Linked DNA regions of Homo sapiens. The protein of the gene in region 3 interacts with the protein of the main gene of each other region in a pairwise test. Each region holds a gene or a part of one and is shown on either strand. Other genes may lie near its edges.

The links. The genes of interacting proteins can lie anywhere in the genome.
Region 1: the proteins of ZNF410 (region 3) and ZNF397 interact in binary tests that used the Homo sapiens proteins (3 or more experiments, as listed by UniProt).
Region 2: the proteins of ZNF410 (region 3) and TRIM35 interact in binary tests that used the Homo sapiens proteins (3 or more experiments, as listed by UniProt).

What each region holds. Positions count from the first base shown.
Region 1 is NC_000018.10:35,236,936-35,244,054, reverse strand, and holds the start of ZNF397 (zinc finger protein 397), read right to left. Parts: upstream 3,022-7,119; 5' UTR 2,946-3,021; intron 2,454-2,945; exon of another isoform or gene 2,365-2,453; intron 1,665-2,364; 5' UTR 1,585-1,664; coding exon 1,171-1,584; coding exon of another isoform or gene 1,114-1,170; intron 904-1,113; coding exon 762-903; intron 690-761; exon of another isoform or gene 581-689; intron 1-580. UniProt on the Homo sapiens protein: Isoform 3 acts as a DNA-dependent transcriptional repressor.
Region 2 is NC_000008.11:27,308,252-27,315,757, forward strand, and holds the start of TRIM35 (E3 ubiquitin-protein ligase TRIM35), read right to left. Parts: upstream 3,022-7,506; 5' UTR 2,985-3,021; coding exon 2,550-2,984; intron 2,416-2,549; exon of another isoform or gene 2,255-2,415; intron 1-2,254. UniProt on the Homo sapiens protein: E3 ubiquitin-protein ligase that participates in multiple biological processes including cell death, glucose metabolism, and in particular, the innate immune response.
Region 3 is NC_000014.9:73,889,859-73,896,879, forward strand, and holds part of ZNF410 (zinc finger protein 410), read left to right. Parts: intron 1-2,168; 5' UTR 2,169-2,317; coding exon 2,318-2,350; intron 2,351-3,938; coding exon 3,939-4,074; intron 4,075-4,500; coding exon of another isoform or gene 4,501-4,551; intron 4,552-6,457; coding exon 6,458-6,676; intron 6,677-7,021. UniProt on the Homo sapiens protein: Transcription factor that binds to the sequence motif 5'-CATCCCATAATA-3', and is specifically required to silence expression of fetal hemoglobin in adult erythroid cells.

The sequences.
Region 1 (7,119 bases), on a different chromosome or scaffold from region 3:
CATGATTCTCCATTTGCAGCTAACTTCTAAACTGCAAATCAAACTATGTCACTCCTTGTCCAAAATCCTTCAACTGCATCCCACTGCACTTAAGAAACTATACAAACAAATTAACATGACATACAGGTCTTCATGACTTGGATCCTATTTTCCTCTCTGGTTCTTCTCTTACCACCTGTCAATTCTCCATTCAAGTCAAATTAAACTACCTGCAATTTTCAGAATGGGTTATATTCTCACACCTTCGGGATGGTATGGCCTTTACTTGGGCTACTCCTCCTCCCACCTATTTACCTGGCTTTCTCTTACTCATAGTTCAAGTCTTAGCTTAGATTTTCTTCCTTCAGGAAGTGTTCCTTGATCCTCTAAGATTGGGTTAGGTGCCTTTAGATGTGCTCCAACAGTACCCACTGCCTACTTATATTCTATAATTTACTACATTGCAACTGCCTTTTTATTTGTCCATCACCCACCTAGACCTGAAACCTCTCCTGGGGCCTACCACAGTACCAGACATGTATTGACGCTTTATAAAGTTACAACATAATGAAATGAATGAATGAATAACAGGGAAACTCACACAGGAGGGCTGACAGCAATTCATGAGGGGTGAATACAAAGCCGCTAAAGCGAGCACCTCTGGTTTAGAATAATAAAGGTGATGCTCACATGTGGCAAGTTTGTCAAGTGCAATTAATTCTGCATTCTCAAAAACAGAGGCCTAAGTGTCAAGAGTTTCCAGATGATTTCCCATTCCTCACCACTTTTAGGGGAAAGGCATGGTTTCCAGGATTTCAGCTGTGTCTTTAAGGGCTGGAGGTGGATGTCTGTTGACTCTTGGGATGCTCTGAGACATGTTAAATCCTTCCATGGCACTGCTGGTCCCTGTGGACTAGCTGGGACCTGAAATCAGTAAAATATGGTTAGCTTTGTGAGAAAATCCCTAAGAAAACTTGCTTAGTAAAAATCTCAAAGAGGTCAATGATGACATCTCCAGGGATGAAGGACAGGGGAAAAAGACCATTCAAGGGTATAGACAAGTATGGCTCTATTAGTCACTTCAGGTTAGGGTTCAGTAGAGACATAAAAATTTTTATCCTACTGTTATGATACCATTACATGCTCCAGGCTGTAAATTCCTTTTCCCACATCACTTTTCTCCGTTCCCACCTGCTGCCCTGGGTCATCAAACTCCCTCTCTAAATCCTCCAACAGGGTCACAGCTTCCTCGCCGCTTTCTGGATTATGTTGCTGAACCCAGATCTGCAGCTCCTCAGGCAGAATGCTCAGGAACTGCTCCAGTACCAGCAGTTCTAAGATCTGCTCCTTTGTGTGCAACTCTGGCATTAGCCACTGATAGCAAAGTTCCTGGAGTCGGCTCAGAGCCTCCCGGGGCCCAGGTGTCTCCTGGTAGCAAAATTTTCTGAATTGCTGACGAAACAATTCTTGGCAGGATTGAGTACTCCCATTCTGCTTAAATTTCTCATCCCAGGAAAAGTTATCTTCTACTTTCACTAGTATTAGTTCTTGTTCCGGAGGATCCTGAGGTATCAGGGTTGAAATCACTCCAGATTCCACAGCCATTCTTGGCTGAAACAGCTTAGCAAAAAGCTCAGTACAACTGGTTCTGTGCTTGCGAAGGAGTGTGAGTAATCTCTTCTTTCCTGAAGGATATAAAAGCAGTTAACTTACAGCAATCAATAAAATCTCTAAGTACTTGTAATAAGAAAGATGAGTAACTTTAGTAATATATTGAAAGGGAGTAGATTTGGGGCTATCACTAAATAAAACAATAATGTGATGATAAACTAAAAATCATTAACCTCAATTAGTGTCTCCCATTATGAAGAATTCCTACCACTAATGTTAGAAAAAACTATTTTAGAAGCCTAAGAATGTGAATGCAACATTAACATCAATCACATAGTGAGAAAATTTCCTTTCCAATTCTTTCAATTCTGATTGTATCAAGGAGAAAAGTCTATCTTTAACATGTATGTATTAATAAAACTTGTAGAACTCTCTTTTAAATAAAATACAGGCTTCAGAATCAGACTTCCAAGAGTAAAAATATTTAGGCAGAATTTAGTAATACTGATTTTAAACATTTATTTTTACTTACTTTCTATCTAAAGCAAGTAATGTTGATTTTCATTTAAGGCAGTAATAACGTTTTTTTAAAAGTTCACATTAAACATGAGTTGATGTAAATATTGGATATTTGTCATTTGATCGCATTTGGTGTTTACCGAATTACTTCAACAAACACTGAGGCACTTACTGAGCATTAAGATTTTTGCTTATGAATAAACGAGTCTACAGAGGAATTGACCAAGAACCAAGACGTATCTGTAAAATGCTTACCATGTGTTCAAAAACATGATAGGTATCACATACACAAAAGCAGCAAAGAGATCCGTATCAGTTCTGAAAAAGCTTAGAATATCCCAAGACTAAAAATGTTCAAAAGCAAAATATGGTAACAAATAGGTATTAAATGTTGTGACACAGACCAAACTTGACCTGCTTTTAGGATGGCGAGATATCGATAGGAATGTATGCCCTTAGTTTGTCAGGACAGATGAGTAAAATTCATTCCTCACACTACGGTTAACGTTAAGAGATGAATTAAAATATTTAGCCTACAAATTTAAGGTTTAACCAGTCCGGCCGCACTAACTAACTAACTAACTAGCCCTTCTATTTTTATATCCTTGGTTAAACCGCAGCATTTACGAAGTCACGGGGTCAGCGGAACTGCGTTTTCCTTTGGAAAGCAGGAGTTTGAGTGCTGGCCTCCTCTGAGTTCCCCAGTCGCTTGGAGACGCCGCGCGGGCCAAAGGGCCGCGACCTGGGGATGGGCAGGCCGAGGAGCGGAGCTCCTCCACTGTCCGGCGCGCGCTCCCAACCCCACCTCCCTCTTCCTAGGGGCCCACGTCCCTCACCGCGAAGCCCAGGAGCGGCCAGGAAATGAGCCACCCACCCCGAGCTGCAAGCCACAAAGACCGGAAGTGCGCGTACGCAGTGTTCCGCTCTCGCGCCCTTCGGGTCCTCCGCCGCCCCGCCCCTTGCTCTGAGGTAGCCAATCAGAGCCGCGGGCTCTACAGTTTCCACCGCCTTCTCCCGGTAGCCGCTAGCCCGGCGGAATCTCCAAGGCCAGGGGAGGGTGCGCTAGGAGTCAGGGGTCCTTGTGAGCGGCGGCACCTGGAGGGTCCCGCATCTCGCCTGGGCCGTTCCCACCCTGGCTTTCTCCTGGCACCACCCATCATTGTTGGTCTCAAGTAATTCCCGAATCTCACTCCCAGTTTTCCATTAAAATATTCAGATTTTCGGCCGGGCGCGGTGGCCGAGGCGGGCGGATCACGAGGTCAGGAGATAGAGACCATCCTGGCTAACACGGTGAAACCCCGTCTCTACTAAAAATACAAAAATTTAGCTGGGCATGTTGGCGGGCGCCTGTAGTTCCAGCTACTCGGGAGGCTGAGGCAGGAGAATGGCGTGAACCCGGGAGGCGGAGCTTGCAGTGAACTGAGATGTGCTGCACTCCAGCCTGGGCGACAGAGCGAGACTCTGTCTCAAAAAAAAAAAAAAAAAAAAAACCTCAGATTTTCCTGTGATTCCAGTTCTTTTCCGACAAAAGTAAATGTAAGGATGAATAGGCTGAACAAAAACTAACAGTCACTTATATTGCTTTTGCCTATGAGTATCACTGGAGCCTTACAACAGTTCTGTGCTGTGGCTATATAATCCCAAATTTACAGCCGTAGACATCGCCCAAAGTCAGGCAACTTGTGACCAGGGACGTCCACGTCCCCATAGTTCAAGGAGACTGGTATCGTAGACTCCTGGAGCCTATCTTAGGGTCTTCCCGTTCTTCAGTGGAAGCTTGCTGGTATTGTCTCACTGTTTAAATTTTTCTTTGGCTATTTAGTCGGTGAAAAATGATGCCTCATGTTTCAACTTTGTGAGCTTAAGATAGTCCCCCTTCATGTTTACTGACCATTTATGGTTCTTCAGAGATGGCTTTTCCCATTTAAAAAATTAAGGGAGTAAGATTTTTCTTTTTTATTTGTGAGAATTTTTTGCTTATTAAGGATAGCAACTCGTTTGTTGCAAATCGTTTCCCATTTATTTGTATTTATTTTTAAAACGTTACATTTTACATGTTTAAATGTTACATATTTTTAAAATGTTATATTAAAAAAGTACACAGGATAATAACAAAGCGATACATACATACATAGAAACAAATTCTCCTTTGTGAGCCAAGACTTAAAACACATATTTGAGAAAAATGTTCGTTAGCATTCAAAGCTATTAGTGACTCACTAAATAATTTTATCATTGTGAAATGACTACAGCAATTTTACAAAGCAAAAAACCAAATAATATTAATTTGTTTATAAATTATCAATTGCTTCATAATGAACCACTTCAAGACTTAGTGACTAAAAACAGCAGATGTTTTATTGCTCACAGTTCTGTTGCCAGGAATTCAGGAAGGGCTTAGCGGAGATGGCTAGTCTGCTTTATGATGTGTCAGCTATCTTCACTTAACTGGGGTGGAAGGTCCAAGATGGCTTCACTCAAATTGCTGAAGTCTTGGTGTTGCCTCTTGGTTGAAGTTACTTGATTCTTCTCCACAAGGCCTCTCTCCATTCAGGAGTTTAGCCTAAGCTTTCTTACATGGTGACTGGCTTCCAAGAGAGTTAAGGAGGAGGAAAGATGCTAATTCTCTTAAAGCCTGAGTCTGGAACTGGCATTATATTTTTCTGCAGTATTCCATGACAGAAGGACTAGAATGGTGGAAAAGGGAAATAGACATTAAGCAGCTTGATCATAGGAGGAAATTTTGGCAGTTATCTTTGCATCCAACCTAACACACCTTGTTATATTGAGAAACCTACTATGTAAGAGTGAAACTATTGAAAGAGAGAAGGCATATCAGTTGAAATGCTTTTGGCTGCAGTAACAGGAACCTTACTAAATGTCCTTATTGTTCAAGCCTTTTAAAAACAAATCCTAATAGCTAGATGCATGGAGATAAAATCATTCCCAGGGTTGGTTACTTCTGCATCTGGACAATATTGTCAAGGACACAGGTTTCTTCCTTCTTTTGGCTCTGCCATCTTTAAGTGTGTTGTTCTCCAGTCTGGCTTCCTTTATGGTCCTAAAATGATTTCCTCAGTTCCAGATTACAGATAATGTTCAGAGACCAAAAAGGGGAACACCTTTATCTTTTGCCCCTTTATACGATTAAGGAAACTCTTTTTCCCTGATAGATTTCTCCATCATGTCTTATTAACTGAAATTGCTTTGAGTGCTTATGTCTATCACTAACAAGGGAGGTAAGGCCTCCATGGTGGGATTAGGACAATTGAAATTTATATCCCAGGGCTAAGGAGAAGGCCAGCCTCTCCTAAAGGACACAGACACTCTGGGGAGAATGCATGAAATTAGGGCTGTGTTAAAAAGGCAGAAAAGGGAGATAAATAGATGAATGTTGAATTTGCAACAGTAATATCTGCTTTGATAGGTAATCTGATTCCCTTGTATAGGTAAGAAAGTGAGACACTGAGAAAAAATCCAGACTCCTGTCCTTCCTTATAAGATGTTACCTATGTTTAAAATATAAAATATTAGTAATTACTTACTTGCAAGAGATGTAGATTAGAGATCTAGAGCCAGTTTCTGGGACATAGTTTAAGTTCCCACTGAGAGAGCAACTGATTACCCCATAGGACTGTAGGGCCTTAGGGCCTCCTTAGAGCCCCTTAAGGACCTTAGCCAACAATTTCCATGACTTATTTAACTTTCAGTGCTATCGGTTATATCAATGCCCTTGAAATCATTCCCTCTATCTTCCCCCATCCCCAGTTTCACATATATCCAGTCTGCTTTAATGTGAAAATATTTGCAAAATTATTGAATCAAGGGTAGAGAAGTATAATTTTTTTCTCCTCCTTCAGATGTTCTTGATTTTTGTTTCTGTTTTTTTAATGATATGTATGACAGGTGTGAAATAATGTCAGCTCCAGGCATTACCAGTGATTAGTGAGTAAGGTTGCTCATTCAGTGAAGTCCAACTGCTTGAATTACTGTATCATACAACATTGGTCTACTTTATGATATTTATCAAGTGAGATAAGCCCATTGAAAGTCTCTTAACTATAAACAACCATTCAATAATAAAGGATAGAGAAAATGGCTTCTGATGCACAAAGGAAAGGAATCATTTTCTTTTATTTTTATTTTTTATAGAAAACATTTTTTTTCATAGAGACGAGGTCTCAATATATTGCCCAGGATGGTCTTAAACTCCTGGGCTCAAGTGATCCTCCCATCTCAGCCTCCCAAAGTACTAGGATTACAGACATGAGACACCACGCCTGGCCAAATCATTTTCTCATTCAGCAAATGTTATGAAATATTTGTATATGTGAAACACTGAGAAGAAAAGTAGGGATTCAAATGAAGTAAAATATATACCCTTTCACCTCACTCATCACTGTAATTCCTAGAGTATAAATTCCATGAGGGGAAGGATTTTGTCTTCCATTGTTGTCTCTCCTGTATGGCCTAGCATTGTGTAGATATTTTGATGAATAAATGAATGAATATATAATACATATATACAAGAGGAAGTATTGATGCAAAAACTAGTGACAGTATTTGAAGCATTCAAAGAAACGGAGTATACAGGTAGGAACATTTTTAATAATATGCTTAGACTATTTTAATATGAACCCAGGATTTGTTTTTATCAGTTATGGTAAGATGACAGACACAGAGGCCATTGCCTTTACAAAAAGAGTTTTTTATTACTCACAATGTATTCTATGGCTCTTCTATGATGTCACTAATTTAGCAGTTGTATTTTTTAGAGACAGATAATAGGATGTATTAACAGAGCATGACAGTGCTTATTTGTAGTATCCAAAACAGTAAACAAAGGCCTTAGTTACTGTTGTTTCTGTTACTGTTGTTTCTGTTTGCTGCTAATGTCAAAGAAAGCCTTTGAGGTTTCTCCTGACATTCATTCTTGTATTTATCATGTATAGAACAGAGTTAAAGCTTCAGGTAGGCTGTTATTATTGTTTTATTTTTTTCAGGTTAATC
Region 2 (7,506 bases), on a different chromosome or scaffold from region 3:
AGGACCTGAAAATACGTTTTTGTGAGCATTAAATTTGTTGACGTGTGAACACTGAAAAGCATCTAGCACACAGTGAGCACTGAAATGTGTTAGCTGGGATGATTTTGACTTTGCTGTTCCTCACATAGATAGTTGGCAAAGTAATCTTTCTCTAAAACACACATCCCATCACAAACTCCCCTGTTTAGAATCTTTCAGAGCTCCCCACAGCACAAAACGGAAAACCCCCTCAGTGAGGCACACAGCTTCTTACCCAGTCCCTTCTTACCAAGTGGTGGAGGGAATCTTCCCATACCGCTCCCCCACAACCACCTACCTTGAATCACACAGAACTACATCTTGTCTATTGACTGTCTATGCCCCCTGCTCAAATGAGAATTCCATGAAGCTAAGAAGAGGCCACAGCACACAACAGCCATCAGTACCCATTTGTCTAGTAAATGAGTGATTTGCACCCTGCATCAGGCTGACCACACCTGGCTCTCATTCTTCTCAGATCCATTTGGGACTAGACTACTCAGCCCCTGACATCATCCTGAGTGTCCACTGACTTGACACCATCATTCTTCTGCTAAAACCCCCAGCTGCTGTTCACAGCAAGGGTGAGCCACCGGCCTCCTGGATCCTCCTGCACGTCCCTCCTCATTCTAACTACCCTTAAATTCCCTCAGTGCCTAGAAAGTCAGGCTTTCCCACTTCTGGACCCTTCCAAATGCTGCTGCCTCTATCTGAAATACCCTCTTTCACCTGGCTAACACCTCCTCTTCCCTCGGGTCTCTGCTGGAAGCTCCTTGAGGCTGGAAATGGTCTATCTTGTCTCCTGCAGTATCCCTGGGACCTTGCAGTACCAGGCATCTGCTGGTGCATGGCTCTCTGCTCTTGAATCCTGGCTTGGCCCCAGCCTGGGGGCTCTGCCTGGGTGTTCTCAGCCCTGACCCCAGCATCTCCTGATCAGCACCTCGGCCAGCCAAATAGGCATCAGTCATGACCTGAACCATGATCCCTCCTTTACCTGGGCCCCAGACCCCTGGCTGGCCAGCACTTATTCCAGCTGTCCCAAATCAGGATCTGTCACTTCTGCCAGTGGAAACAGGAAAAGCATTGACATGGACCCATGTTAAACAAAAAAGATGACAGGAGTAACAGGGTTACTCATTGAGACATGCGTACTGACAGCATCCTTACATTCCCCTTCAATTAAACTTTGTCAAATGCATTTGGAGCGGAACAGACTTCCGTATTTAAAAAGGTATTGCAAAAAAAGAAGGCAGGGCCACAGAGGGGGCCAGAAACCAGGCACAGGGGACTCGGGCAGCTCCTCCTCTCCAGTCCATGCAGCTTCGGGCCAGCTACCCAGTGTTCTCCCAATTGGGGCTCTGACTCATGCATTAGCAGGTGATGAAATAAATTCAATGTTTCACATTCTGGGTAATTTTTAAAAGTAACAGAGGCCAGGCGGAGTGGCTCACGCCTGTAATCCCAGTAGTTTGGGAGGCAGAGGAGGGCAGATCACTTGAGGCCAGGAGTTCCAGACCAGCCTGGCCAACATGGTGAAACCCTGCCTCTACTAGAAATTAAAAAAAAAAAAAAATTAGCCAGGCGTGTTGGTACATGCCTGTAATCTCAGCTACTCGGGAGGCTGAGGCACCAGAATCGCTTGAACCCAGGAGGCGGAGGTTGCAGTGAGCTAAGAGCACGCCACTGCACTCTAACCTGGGCGATAGAGGTCTCAAAAAAAAAAAAAAACAAAGGGAAGTAACAGAAAATATCAGAGTGCCATGGACATGTTCAGAAAACTTTTGTTTCAACTGATACATATGTTCTGGGTCACAAGGGAAAATGCATTGCTTCCTATGGGCTAAGATTAAACGTTTTGGAAAATGCTGAGTTAGGCTAACCCTTATCTTCTATTCATTTTTCCTTCCTATATCAAAGAATTCTCCATGTTAGTTTTGCCCTGTAAGTTGCTCCTGGGTTTATGTATAGTCACTAGAACTCTAGATATGGAGATGCTGCTTTATAAACCAGAATAGGCCAGCCAGCCAGGGTCAGAGACCTCTCACTCAGATAATACAAACCGCGGGATCAGCTTGGCAAGTAGGTGACTGGTTTGGGGGAAATCTTAAGACTCCACACCCCTGGCCAGGTCTGTGGCTCCTCCTCCACTTCTAAATTGAGTGTGCCAAGCTACAGGGCTCGTGGGCTGCACCCACATCCGTGCCGCTTAAAGGGACCTGGGCCACACCCGGCTGGCACAAGGGGTGCATGGCCTGGGCCCTTCAGAAGCAAGTGTCGCTGTCTTGGGAACATCATGTAACCTCATCTGTCACTTTCCGTTCGCATTCTCTTCTCCCAGCACGGGCCCCTGGGCCGACCTTGAAGAAGCAGCCAGCCCTGAGAACCTGGGTCGGAGAGGTGGGGTCCTGCATGCTGGGAGCGAGACGCGGGCACACTGGGCTCTGGCAGGCAGGAGGGGCGGGAGCCGCAGAGCCAAGGGATTCCGGGTTCCAGACCCGGCTCGGCCGCCTCGTGCAAATCGCTGCTCTTACCCGAAAGTCGTGGGCAGTGTCCTTCACCGGCTGCACGCGGTGCCCCTGGTGTCGGGGGTCGGCCTGGCAGGAGCAGCACAGCAGCTCCTTGTCCTCGAGGCAGAAGAGGCTGAGCTGTCCGCGGTGCAGGCGGCAGACACGCGAGAAGCGGTAGCTGGTCCAGCGCGCGCCCTCGGCCTCCTCGCGCAGCAGCTTCTCCACCAGGTTGTTGAGGGTGTGGTTGGTGCGCAGGTCGGCGGGTGACGCGCGGTCTTTGCACACTGGGCAGGTGGGCGACACCTGCACCTCCCAGCAGCGGCTCACGCACCCGCGGCAGAAGTTGTGGCCGCAGCGCAGAGTGACTGCGTCGCGGAAGGGGTCGTAGCAGACGGCGCAGAGCAACTCCTCCTTGAAGGAGCGGGAAGGCCCGGGGGACACGTCGGGACTCCGCTCCATGGCACGAGCAGCCGGCTCGGGCGCCCGGAACTTTTGCTCCGGCCCCTCCCACCCGCCCGGCTGCCAACGCCCGCGACCCGAGTGCTGGGAATCGCCCAGTCCCTTCCCCTGGAACGCTGAGAGACAGCGGCGCTGGCCAATCGTGCGGGGGGGATGGCGAGGGGGAGGGAGGGGGCGCTCGGAGGAGCCCCACCCACTTCCGGTGTGCGCGGGAAATCTTGGGAGAGCGGGGTGGGCCTTCTGCCCGCAGTTCCCGCCTCCTCAGGTCCGGGCGGGTCCCTGGCCGGGGTAGCACGGAAGGGTCTCCCAGGCGGCGTAGTAGGGCTTCCGTGTTACTGGAAACCTACTTCCGGCTGCAAATGGGAAAAGGAGCCTCTACCTTAACCAATCCCCGGGAACCTCAGGCCCGCGGATGGGAGAAACCAGAGATGCCAACTTCCTGCTTCCGAAGTAGTGGCTGGGTCTTAAAGCACCGTGAGTGCAATCACCACTTAAGTTTGCAGCGCCTTTTTGAGGACCTATGCCACTCTTGCATTAGTCGTTTACTTATTTTGGCCAGTCTTCTTCTGGCCCGCCGCGGTAAGGAGAAACAAGAGAGGGGTGGCGGCAGAAGAGCTCCGAGAAAACCTGATTCTTGTCCTGTGGTTGAAAAAGTGAACAGGTCATCATGTTTCAAAGTCCATTTACTCATGAGTACAATGGCTGTAATAGCTCTGTTTCCATGAAGTGTGAGGATAAAGTGAAATAAATGTGGAAAGTGCTCATGACAACCACTGTTTTAATGGGCAAGTGCCCATTAAAACAGTGAAATTGAGGACTTCTGCAAAGTTTAGCTGAGATAACTAGAGTTCATGCTCAATTCTTGCCAGGTACAGTAGGCCTGGATGGTTCCTTCAGATCTTCATTCCTGCTTCAGTTTGATCACTTTACAGCCTCCAGATGCAGAATACTTTTCACACGATGCACTTTCATTCCTTTTCTATTGGGAGACAATTCACATGTGTCATGTTCCTGCATGTCTTGAGAGAGCAGAGGCACTGACTGCCTTTTTCCAACTATCTTTTCAAGGATGTTTCTGCATTGAATAGCCCTGGAAGACAGAATTCTTGTCTCTCCAAAGATCTGGCAGACTTATTCCCAATTATAAGAGATGTGAGTTTCCTAAACTTGGGGCCCCTCTCCTGTAATGCAACCTACTGTAGCCTTCATCACATAGTCTTGCAAGAATTAGGGCTCAGAAACTGGCCCAATGACAATACTGTGACTACTATTATTGCTGTTAGTATTATCCTTTGTCTCTGACCCAGGAGTTTCATCTTTTAGCAGTATTCATGAAATTTTGGCATGCAAACTTGTTAGTGTTGAAACTCAGAAAACAATACCCCAAAATGGCCTCAAAAGCAGAAATTTTTCTCTGCCCTCCTATCTCTCAGTCCCCCAAGGATAGCCATAGAAATTAGAATTCCTTTTCCCCAAGGCAGGTCATAGAAACCAGAACCCCTTTTTCCTAAAGCCAGTCTTGAAACCTTAAAATATTACTCTTTCTCTCTGCCTTTCTGTGGAATAACTGGCCATAAAGAAATTATCTGACCTACCTTGTTTGACTGTAGGCCATAAGAGCCCGATTCCAGAGAGGGTCCTACCCCATACCTGTTAGGGGTAGAAGGTGTCTGAGTTAACAGCAGTGAATCTGTATGGGTCTGCAGCAACCTCAATTCTTGCCTCCTTGGAAGAAAGAATTAGACTGAGGGGCATGATATGGTTTGGCTGTGTCCCCACCCCAAATCTCATCTTGAATTGTAATCCCCATAATTCCCACGTGTCAAGGGAGAGACCAGGTGGAGGTAATTGAATCACAGGGGTGGTTTTCCCCCCATGCTGTTCTCCTGATAGTGAGTGAGTTCTCACGAGATCTGATGGTTTTATAAGTGTTTGGTAATTCCTCCTGTGTTCATTCTCCTTCCTGCAGCCTTGCAAAGGAGGTGTCTTGCTTCACCTTCACCTTCCACTGTGATTGTAAGTTTTCTGAGGCCTCGCCAGCCATGCGGAACTGTGAGTCAATTAAACCTCTTTCCTTTATAAATTACCCAGTCAGTCTAAGGCAGTTCTTTATAGCAATGTGAAAATGGACTAATACAGGGCATAAGGCAGAAAAAGCAACTGAGGCAAGTTTCAGAGCAAGAGTGGAAGTTTATTAAAAAGTTTGGGACAGAAAAGAAAGTACACTTGGAAGAGACCCAAGCGGGCAACTTGAGGGACAAGTGTGGCATTTAACCCTGATCCTGGGACTTCATATGCTGGCCCACTTCTGGAGTCTTGCTGCCCTCTCCCTTCATTCTTCCCTCAGTGTGAGCTGCCCGAATGCACAGTGCCCTCCCTATGCTTGGGAGGTGAGCATGCACCATGTGCTTAGGAATTTGTACACATGCCCATCTGAGGCTTTCTTCCCTTTTCCAGTGGAATGCCCCCGGAAGGTCATACTCCACTATTTTGTCTCTTAATGTGCATGCCCAAGCTCACTCACCCAATTTCTGAAATTTTATTGGAAGCTGATTACCAATCTCAAGTGTTTTTATCTGTTTGGGAAATTGCCTATGCCTGGCACCTGCTTTAATATCAATTAACATCAAGTAACACTTTAGTGACAGCTGTGGACCATCAGGGAATTGTCTCTCTCCCTCTCTCTGGCCCATCTGCCAAATTATCCATTTTAGAAAGGCAGTGTGATAACTGTGAAACCATCACCTGGCATTCTTGCTTGAGGGGATTGGGGAGGGTAGAGTCCTCTCCTGCCCTGCTCATGCCTGTCTAACTACCTGTAACATACCTGGAAGGAAGAAATGCATGTTCGTAGAGGCCAAGAAAAATCTAGACAGACAGGCCTAGGTTCCCCACTCAGTTTATTAACATTAGCTCATACCCTTTTGTTCAATCATATTTCTACACAGCTACTCATACTTTGCTGAACCTAAGCATGAAAATGAGCCATTTCCAGTCTATCTTTAGGTCTTCATTCTGAAGGCTCCCATGTCACATAAAACTATGATCAGGCCAGGCATGGCGGATCGGGCCAGGTGCCAGTGGTGGCTCACACCTGTAACCCCAGCACTTTGGGAGGTCGAAGAAGGCCTTGAGCTCACAAGTTCAAAACCAGCCTGGGCAACATAGCAAAACCCCGTCTCTACAAAAAATACAACGGGCGCGTGTGGTGGTGTGCGCCTATAGCCTGAGGCAGGAAAATAGGGTCTGGAGGCAGGGAACATAAGGCCAATTCACACTTCAGCTGCGACAGCAAATATCCTCCCCATAGGGCGTAGGCCAAGTAAATAACTTTGTAACTTTACTTCATCCTCTCCATTTACATAGGGCGTACCCCAGGTAACCAATGGAGTCCTCCAGAGGGTATTTAAACCCCCAAAAGTTCTGTAATGGGGCCTTTGAGCCCCTATCTCAGGCCGGTTCCCACACTGTGGAGTTTACTTTCATTTTCCATAAAACCCTTCATGCCTTCCCTGCTTAGTTTGTGCGTTTTTTCCAATTCTTTGTTCAAGATGCCAATAACCTGGACACCCTCCACCATTAACAGTCCCAGCTACTCTGGAGGCTGAGGTGGGAGAATCGCTTGAATCCGGGAGGTGGCAGTGAGTCGAGATTGTGCCAGTGCACTCCAGCCCAGGTGACAGAGCCAGACCCTGTCTCAAAAAAATAAATAAACTTCTATCCCTTTCCTCTTCTTAACCTTTTTGTCAGTGATTTGCAGTGAAACTTCAAGGGGCAAAGGAGACGTTTTCCCTTGGCCCACACATTAGCTTGCAAGTAGGGTAAAATCTCAGACCTTTAAAGTTCTTAATAATTTCTTTCCACACTTTTCCTCAGCATAGTCCTTTCCTCACAATGACAAGGGATGAATACCACTAACTCTAATTGCCTTCAGTGTTTCTTAAATGTGGTTCATGGTTCTCCTGCAATTACCTGGGGAGTTTTCTAAAAGCAGTTTCCTGGGCCCACTTTAATCTACTCATCTCTCTTGTGGAAAGTGAGGCCCAGGAATCTTCATTTTCACTTGCATGCTAGGTGATTCTGAGGTGCAAGAAAGTTTGAAAGCAATTATCCTAGATCTATTCACCCAACAAGTTGTTGGGTCTCCAGCTATGGTTGGTTAGTGGTTCAAAAATTAACCTTAGAGGCAATATCCAAAAAAGCCACAAGATGGGGCTAACAACGCTACACTCCAGATAGCCCTCTCCCCTCCCCCCAACGCAGAGACTCTTACGTCGTCTCATTCTCTTTCACTGTGTTCTCTTATCTCTGTGTCCCAGTTGTGTTGTGAATCGATATGTGTTGCTGTCTATGTGTTTCATTCTGTTCTTACCTGATCTTCCTTATTTTGTTGGGTCTTTTTTTTTTCTCATATTCTGAATGGGGCCACAAATCAAAAACAAGAAGGAAGAGTAGAAATTGTATCTTTTAAACTACAATACAAAGGTTAACATTAAACCAATAAGGCTCTTCAATCATTCTG
Region 3 (7,021 bases):
CGATCTCGGCTCACTGCAATCTCCATCTCCTAGGTCCAAGCGATTCCCCTACCTCAGCCTCCTGAGTAGCTGGGTCTGCAGGCACATGCCACCACACCTAGCTAATTTTTTGTATTTTAGTTGAGACGGAGTTGCACCATGTTGGCCAGGATGGTCTCAATCTCCTGACCTTGTGTTCCGCCTGCCTCGGCCTCCCAAAATGCTGGGATTACAGGCGTGAGCCACTGCTCCCGGCCTAAATGGTTACTTTTTTACAATGAAAAATGAGGATTTCAGGTAGCTTAGAAAGAGAGAGGGAGAAACCAACAGGACAAAAAAACATTTATTCAGTTACTTTTTTTTTTTTTTGAGATGGAGTCTTGCTCTGTCGCCCAGGCTGGAGTACAGTGACGCAGTCTCAGCTCACTGCAACCTCCATCTCTCGGGTTCAAGCGATTCTCCTGCCACAGCCTCCCGAGTAGCTGGGATTACAGGCACCCGCCACATGCCCGGCTAATTTTTGTATTTTTAGTAGAGACGGGGTTTCGCCATATTGGCCAGGCTGGTCTTGAACTCCTGACCTCAGGTGACCCACCCGCCTCGGCCTCCCAAAGTGCTGGGTTTACAGGCGTGAGCCACCGTGCCCAGCCTAAGTGCCCTCTTTGTAAAGTCTGTCTTGTTCTACCTTTCCACACTACCTGGTATTAATTGGAAACTTTAAAGTACCCATTGATTGAAAATATACCCATCCTGGATACATTTTACACTGTATGATTATTTGTAATAGTGCTCCCAATTTTAGTAACAATTGTACAAAATAAAATGGACTCACATTCCAAAATCCTGAAAAGAAACTAAGCTATAAGAAAGTAAGAATTTAAGTTATAGGGAGTGGCTGGGCGCAGTGGCTCACACCTGTAATCTCAGCACTTTGGGAGGCCACGGCAGGCGGATCACCTGAAGTTGGGAGTTCGAGACCAGCCTGACCAACATGGAGAAACCGTCTCTACTAAAAATACAAAATTAGCCAGGTGTGGTGTCTCATGCCTGTAATCCCAGCTACTCCAGGAGTCTGAGGCAGAATTGCTTGAACCTGGGAGGCAGAGGTTGTGGTGAGCTGAGATCGTGCCATTGTGCTCCAGCCTGGGCAACAAGAGCAAAACTCCATCTCTAAATAAATAAATAAAAGAGAGAGAACAGCCGCATCAGGGTCCTGAGAGCACTACCTTTGGGAAACGCTCTTCAAATTTTAACTTTTTTTTTTTTAAATGTAATTTTAAAAATTATCAAAACAATATGGTTGCCTTTTAGAAATATTGGAAAATTGAGAAAAGAAAATTAAGTCACACCAGCCTACCACACGGTATAGCTACGGTCATAGCTGTATGAATCTCCTTTTACTTTTTCTGATGCTTATTATAACTAGTTTTAATAATAGCAAGTATATAATTTTGTATTTTATTTTTATAATTTAACATGTCAGTCACTTGTTGTTGCATTGTCTTCATAGCATTTGTTTGTTGGTTTGTTTTTTGAGATAGAGTCTTGCTCTGTCGCCCAGGCTGGAGTGCAGTGGTCTGACCTTGGCTCACTGCAACCTCCACCTCCTGGGTTCAAGGGATTCTCCTGCCTCAGTCTCCCGAGTAGCTGGGATTACAGGTGCCTGCGACCATGCTCAGCTAATTTTTGTATTTTTAGTAGAGAGGGGGTTTCACTATGTTGGCCAGGCTGGTCTCGAACTATTGACCTCAAGTGATCCACCTGCTTCAGCCTATCAAAGTGCTGGGATTACAGTTGTAAGCCACCACACCCAACCCTTCACAGCATATTTTGAAGTGACAGTGCCATATTTAATCAACCATTCCCTAATTGGGGGTGTGTGTGTGTGTATACATTGCTTCCAGTTGTTTATTACATAGGATAAGACGGACATCTTTGGACATAGCTCTATCCATATTTAAGATAGTTTTTTAGATTATTAGAGGTTGAAATACTGCATCAAAGCGTAGTATTTTTATGGGTTTTGATGCCTGTTGAGCTTGTTGTATTTTAAAAGAAGTGTTTCGGTTTGAATTCTTTATTTGCTTGCTTGTTGTGATTTTTTTTGTATATGTAAAGAAGTGTCTTTATGTACCTGTGTTTTCCCACTGCTCTTAATGCCCCCTCTCTCTTTTTTACCCCTATTCTAGGTTACATTGATTACCCACCTAGTACAACATCTTACGGGAAGAGCATAGTATTTCCTAGAGGAATATGAACATAACAGGAAGGTATCATTGGCTCTGAATTAAATTTGAACTTGTCCCCTGAATAGCTACAGGTTTTGGAAGCTGAATCAATGTTATCAGATGAGTTAGAATCCAAACCAGAGGTGAGCCCAGTCAGCTTGTTTCCTTTTCTTTTGGTGGGCTATATTTCAAAGTTTATCTTCAGTTTAGGGGGTCAGCAAACTTTTTCTTTAATGGGCCAGATAATAAATATTTTAGGTTTTTTAAGCTATATGGTTTTGATTGTTACTATTTTTTCAAAGATTTAAAAATTATATTTTTTGTGATTGTTTTTATATCTGTTTTTCAGTATATGTGAAATCATACATTTAGATAATGTAATAAAATCTTATAAATAAAAATATATGTTTATGTATAAATATATACATAAATATGAGATACATGTGATGTATAGGTGTATAAGTATATAAATATTTACTACTACAAATTCTTTTGTTTATTTTATATATATCTGTAAGTATTTTCTTTCTAAATGTGATTGGGGATTTAAACATTTTTTGTTGTTCACTTTTCTTACTTTAAATTTAGCACATCTGTGTTGCAGAGTGGTCACTGAATTTGGAATCAGATTACTTAAATTTGAGGATTGGCATTGCTCCTAACTAGTCTTGTGACCTTAGACAAGTCACTTAATGTCTTCAATTTTATTCCTCAGCTGTAAAATATGCCTTAAGTTTGGGTGCGGTGGCTCACGCCTGTAATCCCAGCACTTTGGGAGGCCGAGGCAGGTGGATCATGAGGTCAGGAGTTCAAGACCATCCTGCCTAACATGGTGAAACCCTGTCTCTACTAAAAATACAAAAAAAATTAGCTGGGCGTGGTGGCGGGCACCTGTAGTCCCAGCTACTTGGGAGGCTGAGGCAGGAGAATGGCGTGAACCCAGGAGGTGGAGCTTGCAGTGAGCCAAGATCATGCCACTGCACTCCAGCCTGGGCAACAGAGCAAGACTCTGTCTCAAAAAAAAATACATCTTAAATCTTACTGGGTTAATGCGATAATTAAATGAGCCAGTACACAGAAAAGTGTTTTGTAAAATGTAATCAATATGATGCAGTTGATTTTTTTTAAGCCATTATTTTAAAATGTAATTATTTTTATCATTTCTCTGTTTGACAGAAGGTGGCAGAGGTTAACTTAATTACAGTGAAGTGTCACTTAGCGATAGAGATACATTCTGAGAAATATGATGGTAGTTGATATCATTATTATGCGAACATGGTAGAGTATACTTACACAAACCTGTATGGTTTAGCCTGCTACACTCTAGGCTGTATGGTATACCTTATTGCCCCTAGGCTGCAAACCTATACAGCATGTTACTGTACTGAATACTGTAGGCAGTTGAAGCACAGTGGTAAACATTGTGTATCTAAACATATCTAAACGTGGAAAAAGTACAATAAAAATAGGATATTACAATCTCACAGGACCATCATCCTATATGTGGTCTGTTAACTGAAATGTCGTTTTGCAGCACATGACTTTATATAAATCAGCTGTTCTCTAGAACAGAGAACTTGATAAAATAACTTTAGATATTATGTTGTTTAGTTTTTGTTTGAATATGGATGAGACTAGTGAACAGTCTTAATATTATCTTTTGGTAAATTCAAAGGTTTAGATACATTTCTAACAACTCGTATTTCTCAGTGTTGTCTTTTCTCCCCCCAGCTCCTGGTACAGTTTGTTCAGAATACGTCCATCCCATTGGGACAGGGGCTTGTAGAATCAGAAGCTAAAGATATTACTTGCTTGTCCCTCCTTCCCGTGACTGAAGCCTCAGAATGCAGTCGGCTAATGTTACCAGGTAAAAATTAAGATCACTAGAAATAGGATAAAGAAGTCTTAAGAGCTTAGCCTACTCTATGTTACTGGTGGAATGAATATATCGTTTAATAACTGACTGGTGGAAACTGTAAAAATTAGGAGTCATGGAGAAAAAGCAACCATGAAATCATTAGTGCATTGGTAGTTTAAGCCATAGGAATGGATATGATCACCCAGAGAGTGTGAGAGTGGGGAAAAAAGGTCAGTGCAAAACTATGGAACTCTTTATTTAAGGTACAGGGTAGGGCAGGAGAACTTGTAAAGGAGGGAAGAAACAAAGACTAAAATAGTTGGATGAACATCAGCAGAGTGGAGGCATGAAACCCAGGAGAAATCATTGTATCAAATGCTACTGACAGGCCCAGTGAAATAGGGACTAAAAGGACTCCATTATTGACTTTGGCAGAACCTGTTCCATGGAGAGAAGAGGATGGAAAGTCAGGCTGCAGTGACTTGAGTATACATACTTGCTTTTTTTTTTTTTTTTGAGATGGAGTGTCACTCTGTCGCCCAGGCTGGAGTGTAGTGACGCAATCTTGGCTCACTGCAACCTCCGCCTCCCCTCCCAGGTTCAAGCTATTCTCCTGCCTCAGCCTCCTAAGTAGCTGGGATTACAGGTGCGTGCCACTATGCCTGGCTAATTTTTGCATTTTTAGTAGAAACGGGGTTTCACCATGTTGGCCAGGCTGGTCTTGAACTCCTGACCTCCAGTGATCAGTCCGCCTTGGCCTCCCAAAGTGCTGAGATTACAGGCGTGAGCCACTGCGCCAGGCCTATCAATACATACTTTCTAAAGTCTCTCCTGGTACGAGAAGGAAAAAGAGAAGGCGGTAAGATAGAGGGAAATTTTTTGTTTGTGTTAAGATCTGAGATATTTGAGGGTTGCTTTATGCTAAGGGGAAAGAACCAGTTAGAAAAGTTGAAGACAGGCCAGGTGTGGTGGCTCGTGCCTGTAATCCCAGCACATTGGGAGGCTGAGGCAGGAGGATAGCTTGAGCCCAGGAGATTGAGACCAGCCTGGGCAACATGGCGAGACCTCGTCTCTACAAAAAATTAAAAATTAGCTGGGCATGGTGGTGTGCAGCTGTAGTCCCAGCTGAGGTGGGAAGATCACTTGAGCCCAGGAGTTTGAGGCTGCAGTAAGCTGTGATCACACCACTGTACTCCATCCTGGGTGGATAGAGCAACACCCTGTCTAAAAGAAATAGTAATAAATTTAAAAAATATATGTATAAACAAACAATAATTAAGGAAATGAAAACAACAGCGTTCATCTTCCCTTAGAATGACTGTTATCTTAAAGATGGAAGATAACAAGTGTTGGTAAGGATATGGAGAAAAGGGAACCTTTGTACACTGTTGGTGGGAATGTAAGTTAGTACAGCCATTATGGAAACCGTATGGAAGTTCCTCAGAAAACTAAAAATGGAGCCACTATATGACCCAGCAATCTCACTTGTAGGTATATATCCAAAGGAATTGAAATCAGTAAGTCAAAGATGTCTATACTTACATGTTAATTGCAGCATTATTCACAATAACCAAGATATGGAATCAGCTTTAGTGTTCATCAACTAATGAATGCATTTAAAAAAAAATGCATTCACCTTCTTTTCCACATTTCTTTTAGTTTTAATTTTGATTTAAAGTATTTTAGACATACAAGTATAGATAAAAGTAAATGAAAATCCAAATACTTGGCCTCCCAGCTCATAAAACACAATATTACAGGCCGGGCGTGGTGGCTCATGCCTATAATCCCAGCACTTTGGGAGGCCGAGGTGGGTGGATCACTTAAGGTCAGGAGTTTGAGACCAGCCTGGCTGGTGAAACCCTCTCTACTAAAAATGCAAAAGTTAACCAGGTGTGGTGGCACAGAAAAAATAACCGCAGCCTGAGATACAACCATAGGTAAAAAGGTAATGGCAAAAACTGCAATAGCTTTTGCACCAACCTAATACAAAAGTTAAGGAGAGGGAGCTCTCTCCAGGAAAAATAAAATGTAGATCCTATTCTTGAGTTAGTATTCATTGTATAGCTATATTTTTCAAGGAGAAAGTACTGATTTCTGGCCTCAAAAAGGACTAAATTCTGTGATGTCCAAATGTTGAATGGTTGGTTATTCACCAACCATTACTGCCAAGTGACAGAGAATTCTGTTCCTCACGTTTTGGCTGACTGCCTTTGGAACATAAAGCCATCTCTCTGTTCTTCTGTGAGACAAAGTTTTTATTTGTGTAATGAGAATGCTGTCTGTTGCTATAAGGATGTTAGCTTCCAAGAGATGTTGGGTGCTGTGTATCAAAATGGTGGGCTCCTAGAGATAGGTGCTACATAAAGCTGTGGTATTTTCCCTTTACTAGATGATACTACAAATCATTCTAACTCCTCCAAGGAGGTCCCTTCCTCAGCTGTTTTGAGAAGCCTTCGGGTGAATGTGGGTCCAGACGGAGAGGAGACGAGAGCTCAGACTGTACAGAAATCCCCGGAGTTTTTGTCCACTTCAGAGTCTTCTAGCTTGTTGCAAGATCTACAGCCAAGTGATAGCACTTCTTTTATTCTTCTTAACCTAACAAGAGCAGGTATTCTTTCCTTTTTTTTGGGCTCTGCTTATGCCTAAGAAAAAAATTAGGGGTGGGGCATATTTAACTTAGTCATACTTAAAATAGAAAGAACCTTTATTATTTTATTATTTTGGAGAATTGGTGTGTCTGGTGACCATTTGAATATGTAGAGGGAGAGGGAGGACTCTAGTATGACTCATATCTTGTTTGGGAAATTATGTAGTGCCATTTACTGAGATCGCACAGGAAGAGCAAGGCTTGGGGGAGGATGATTAGTTCCAATTTGCACCTATTTATGTTGAGATTTTGGAGGTATATTCAGGAGGACATGTCCTTTAGAGAGTTAGAAACATGAATCCAGAG